Regions from separate parts of the Homo sapiens genome. Here region 1 is linked to region 2. Evidence: fine-mapped expression QTL. A gene starts in region 2. The other region holds a variant in brackets. All regions are shown on one strand. Distances are between the middles of the regions.

Region 1 (2,901 bases), 180 kb after region 2:
GGCATAGATCACAGTAACATTAACCAGAGCAGAGAGTGCAGGAGGAGAGGCTGCATTGGAGGCAGAAGGGAGGCAGGGAGAGAGACGATGGATTCAGCTTTGGACTTACTGCATTTGAGGGGTTTGCAGTATATCAAGGTGGAGTTGACAATTAGACCTTTACATTTGAGTCTGGAGCCTAAGAGAGAGTTTAGAGATAAAGGCCTGGGATTGGTTGGCGTTTAGGTTACCACTGAAATTCCAGGCACGATTGAGTTCTCCAGGGGGAGTATGATGAGAATAAAAGAAAAGAAAATATAAAGGGGCTAAGATAGGTGGACACAAAGAATCTAAGTTTATGAGTCTATCTCCCCATAATTGGAAACACTACTCATAAGAACCATTCTTCCGAAAGAAATTGGCACAGTTAAATGGGACCAAAAGAGACCACGCCCTTTTAGGGAGTCCCGTTAGACTACAAACTCCTTGAGGTCAGCCAGCACATCTGCCTCAGTGCATAGCCCAGTGTTTGGCACATAAGCATCCCTCCTCTGTGTTATGAATGAATGAGGATTCATTGTAGTTGGCATACAGAAGACCAAGAGACACCTGAAGGCTGTCCTGAAAGGTTTGAAGAGCCAAGTGGACACCACAAGGTCTCACTGGTTTGAAAGTTCACAATTATGGCGTGGACATTATAAAAAAAGTCAATTTCAGCTGTTACATCAAAGAAGAGCTTTCTGAAAAATGAAGGATTGAGGACCGGGCGCGGTGGCTCACACCTGTAATCCCAGCACTTTGGGAGGCCGAGGTGGGTGGATTGCCTGAGGTCAGGAGTTTGAGAGCAGCCTGACCAATATGGTGAAACCCAGTCTCTACTAAAAATACAAAAATTAGCCAGGTGTGGTGGCATGTGCCTGCAGTCCCAGCTATTCAGGAGGCTGAGGCAGGAGAATTGCTTGAACCTGAGAGGCAGAGGTTGCAGTGAGCTGGAGTCGTGCCACTGCACTCCAGCCTGGGCAACAAAGAGACACTTCATCTCAAAAATAAATAAATAAATAAATAAATAAATAAATAAATAAATAAAGGATTGAACAGTGAGTCATGAGTTTTATGTCCCCAGAGGCCATTAAGCCTGAGGCTGGGGTGGTCTTCAGGGATGCTGGAGAAAGGATTCCCTATTGCCTGAGGGTTGGAGGTAAACCCCTCTGAGATCCTTTCTGCCCTGAATTGAGACCTAACTTGCAGGATTAATGGAAAAAACTTGTTTATTAGAATGAAGTTCATCAACATTCAAATACCAGGTTGGTGGCTTTTTAGCTGTGTAATCTTGGACAAATTATTCACTCTTCCTGAGTTCCAAGTCTTCATTAATACCATGGGCTTATGATGCCTATAGTAAAGGTTAGGATTAGGGTTTGCTACTTATCATAGAAAAGCTCAGATACCACTGACTTGAATGAAATAGAAATGCGGTTTTTATTTCTCCCAGAAATGTAGTGTGTAGGTAGGGATTCTAGGGCTAGTGTGCAAGTTTCTTTTATTTTTCTGCCCCACCATCCTCATGTTCATCCATCCTCATGTTCACCTCAAGATTCAAGCTACCTTTAAGGACCATCCCTACCCCCACCTCCACATTCTAGGTTGCAGGAACTGTGTGGGTGGGGTGGGGGAAA[G/A]GACAAATATAGGCTAGTTTTCCTGCTGAACCAGTTTCCTTCTGCTTTTATCTAATTGGCCACAGCTTAGTCTCATGGCCACAACTGACTGCCAGGGAGTCCGAGAAATGTTCTCTTTGCTCCTCCTTCCCCAAGCAATTATGACTCTATCACTAAAAAAGAAGGTAGAATGGATACATGAAAAATAAAGTAGAGGTTCCTCTTCAAAGACTTTCCTCCCAGTCTAATTAGGAATAAATAGCAACTTCTCTTAAAAGCAAAATTTATTCAAAGACCTGTGCTAATATTCTTAAATATCTGCTAGCCATAATAAAGAAATCGATGTGCTTTATGTTCTTAGCTCCCACAATTTAGCCTAAATATTTGCCCTGGCATGCTTATACTAGTCCAAGCAAGCATTAAGTCATAGCCTGTTCCTCTTCCTTATCTGAAGGTGTTTTTACCTTTCTCAGCATTCCACAAGTTACTTCCTCCTTCCTTTGTTCTCCCCTGCCTTTGCCTCTTTTAAAAAGTTCTAAGTTGCTAGCCAATCAAGGCAAATACAGAATGTGAGGTCCCATTCCAGCCAGTAGAAACCGGACACAGCAGTAAGGTGGAAGCGTCAGGTTATAAATGACCCTGTCTCCTTTGTTCAGTGTACTCTCATGGCAAAACTGCTGGTGAGTGTACCCTTTCTGCAGAAAGTATAAAAATAGCTTTGCTGAGATTTATGTTCAAGTGCTATTTCTTTACAGCACTGAAGAACAAGCGTTTCAAACAGATATCACGGCACAATTGCCACTGTCTGCTCTTCCCCCTGGCAGAGTTCCATGTGGGTGAAAGAGATAATCCAGTATATATCAAATGCCTGAGCATAGTAGATGCTAACTAAATTGTCATTCTATTCTTATTCTACAGTAATTTGCAAGCAGATGGAACTTCAATATGGCAATAGAGAAAGAATCAATTAGACCAGAGTCTCCTCAGGAAGACTTTCTATAGGTAAGATAGAAAAAAGAATTGTAGTTTCCATTAATTGGCAATAGTAGGAAGAGTATTACAGAATAGGGGAAAATAGGAGGATAATTGTAATGCCCATTTGCTGAGGTTATGTGCCAGCCACTGTGCTTAGTACTTGGCCAGTGTTGTTCTCATTGAATTCTCATAACCACCTTACGAGATAAATACTATATTTGACCCTGTTTTACAAAGGAAGAAAATGAGGCTTTGAGCAGTTCACTGACTTGCCTGTGTTCAGGTAACTACT
Region 2 (2,901 bases):
CTTAAGAGGAACATTTAAAAGAGGATAAGGCAATGAACAAAATAACTTGAGGATACACAAACTTTGGAGTCCTCACTCCAAAACTTCAAAAGCAGTGACATTTACAAGAATGTCTGGATAGCTATACACTGATCACTCCTCACAAGCAGCTTTGACTAACAGGAAGGACATGCTGGCTGGGCTTCCCCCCTACAGATAGCAATGCCAACCAACCACTCTGTCCTAAAGAGGGACTCGCAAGCTGTGGCTGCTCGCCCCCAAATTGCGCAGGACTGTCTGCAAGAAGGAACAAGAAAAGTTATTCACAGCATCACACCACGAAAGGTAGTTGCGTACCGCCCAACAGGGCCCTCTCCAAACACGGCAGGCTCCGCGAACCACAGGTGCTCACCGCTAACAAGAGGGCCGGGGGTGCGGGTATCGGTCACATGCCCTCGTGGTGTTAACCAGAAACTCCTCCTGGCTCGCTCCCTGCCAGCAGCCTGTGTGCCCAGAAGCCGAGCAGGCCCTGAGGGGGTCCTGGGGACTTCGGAGACTGGGGGCTTCCACCTCCAGCCTCTCCAGGGCTCCCGGCCGGGGCAGCAGAGGGTGTGCCCGGCCTCCCCGCCGGCATCCCGAGTACAGGGGGTACCAGCCACAGGTTCGGAGAACTTGTCCGGCGCTACACACCACGGCGCCCCCGCGGCGACTCTCGCGCTCCGGGGCTCTTACCTTGGCCGTGACTGCCGCCAGGCAGAGGGAGACACGGAAGAACAGGGTGGCGCGGCGGCGCCGCCGCCTACGAGGCGCAGGGGGTCCGGGTCAGGGTCCCGGCAGGCGCTGCCCTACTCGGAGCGGCGGTGCCAAGCACAGAGTTCGGGACTGCCCCCGGCTCCAAATGCCGCGGCGAGGGTCCGGGTCCCCCAAGCTGAGCACTGTCCCTTCTTCCTCTTCCTCCGGGGCCGCTGCCTGGAGCTGCTCCCGGCCCGGGGGACTCTTCCGAGCCAGGGGCGCCCCGCATGGGCAGGGGCCTGGGTCAGCCTCGGGTTGGGTCCAGGGAGCGACCGCCGGGGCCGACTCCACCTCCCGCGCTCCAAGCCGATTCGTCCCTTCAGGGCAGGGCCTGCCCGCGAACAGCCCGGCGAGACGAGCGCGGCCGCGCCCCCAGCTTCGGGCGCCCGGGCTCCGGCGCGGCGGCGGGGCAGGAGCAGACTGGCCGGGCCGGGCGCCGAACGCGGCGGCGCGGGGGGGGCTGCAACCGGCCGCGGCGCGCTCTCCCCCAGGGCCTGCGCCGCCCGCCCGCGGCTCCGCGGGAAAGAAGCGCCGGAAAAGGCCTCGCCCCGGCCTGGGGCGCGGGGCCGGGGGCGCGGGGCTAGGGGAGGCGCCCCGGGAAGGTCACGGGAGCGGAGGCGCGGCGAGTGGATCGCGGCGCGGTGGGTGCGGGGAGCCGAGGCGGGCGGCCCCCGCCGCCGGGAGCGCTCGCCGGCCTTGGCCGCCGCCGCCGCCTCCGAGATGCGCCGGCTTCCCGGAGCGCCCGGCGCTCGGAGCTGGGCGGCCGCTGCAGCCGCCGCGGGCAGCCGGGCGCCGCTGGCCGGAGCCGGCGCGCGATCCCCGCCTCCCGCGCCCGGCCAGGAGTGGGCCGCCGCGCGGGAACCGGCAGGGGCGGGCGCTGGGGTCCGGGCTCCGGGCTGGCCCCGCCGCCTCCGCGTGCCCAGAGCGCCGGACTCGCTCAGCAGCTGCAGTGACTGTGTGTCTGTGTCATGTCTGTGCAGCCGGGGGGGACCGCGAGCCGGGGCTGGGTTCCGAGCGGGGGCGGGGCCGGCGCCCGCGTCGGCGCCCGCCCCCGACCCCGTGACCGAGCGGCCGGCCAATGGCAAGCGCCGCAGCCGCGCGGACCGAGAGTTCGCCCCCGCACAGGCTCCGCCCCCCGGCGAGACTCCGCCCCGGTGCTTCTTCAGCTCGCTGGCTGGCAGGCAGGCGGAAGCAACACCCGGAGCCGGGATCCCGGGCCGGGTCGGGATGAAAGGGTGCAAGCTGGGAGCTCCCCGCCCTTCTTCCCCCAACCCCGGCGGCTCCCGGCCGCCTCGGGCTTGGCGTGCCTCGCGGAAAAAGGGGGAAGGGAAGCGGGACGGGCCCGCAGCTGCCGTGGTAGAGAGGCTCGCAGGCTTGCAGGACCATGCAGCCTGCTCCCCAAATTGCACAAAACAGCCGTCGTGAGAAGTAGGAAGTTTCCCCGCCTCGGGTCGCAGCTTCTCTCGGAGGTGGGCATGCTGTGGGGCAGCCGGAGTCTGTGAGGAGCCCCGCCGAAGGGCTCTGACGGCATCTTTCTGGGATCGGTATCCAAGAATCCTGTCCAAGGCTTCCTCTTCCTCTGAGGAAACTACATTTCTTTTTCCTCCACCCCAAACACACACCCCATGCACGCACAACACGCCCCTCCCCTGCTGATTTTATTCTCGCTCTTTCCCTCTTGGCATAAGAACCCGGCGCGCAACATCCCTTGAATGGACTTCCAGCCTCCCAGTTCTAGGGACCAGGGTGGGGGTACGGAGAGTCCTCCCGAGCCACAGGAGAAGTGGGTGAAATGGGTCGGGGCACAGGAGCGGGGGTGTGAGAATGGATGGAAGGAGGATGCCCTCGAGAGAAGACCCAGAGGAGGCGAAAGCAGAGAGGCAGGGAGAGAAAGAGGACGCCGAGAGCTGCACAACTCGGACTCGGAGACCGGAGCTCCGGGCGCGCGATCCAGCTCCCGGGTTTTTCCGCAGCTCGGTCCCAGGGCTTCTGGGGTCCCCTTCCCCCCGGGTCTCCACCTCTCCCCAGCCGGGCGGGCCGCCGGGTCTTTGCCTTCCCTCTGCGCGCCTCTCCGCTCTCCAGGACTCGAGCGAGGCAGCGGGAAGCCCACCCTAGTTCTTGGAAGGGGCA

Evidence for each region. PIP is the estimated chance that this variant, and not a neighbour inherited with it, causes the effect.
Region 1: its variant is fine-mapped to the expression of LARGE1 in nasal epithelium (TOPMed, PIP 0.99).

The regions. Positions count from the first base shown.
Region 1 is chr22:34,097,806-34,100,706 of GRCh38, forward strand. The region is part of intron 2 of LINC01643 (long intergenic non-protein coding RNA 1643); the gene reads left to right. Among named protein-coding and RNA genes, the nearest start is that of LINC01643, 82 kb to the left of the region's middle. The variant G/A (reference allele first, on the strand shown) is at 1,656.
Region 2 is chr22:33,919,284-33,922,184 of GRCh38, forward strand. It overlaps LARGE1 (LARGE xylosyl- and glucuronyltransferase 1), which reads right to left and starts at 1,193. Exons shown (of 15, transcript NM_133642.5): 1 at 712-1,193. LARGE1-AS1 (LARGE1 antisense RNA 1) reads left to right here and starts at 1,942. Exons shown (of 2, transcript XR_001755630.2): 1 at 1,942-2,240. RefSeq lists silencers at 721-820, 1,091-1,240, 1,561-2,060.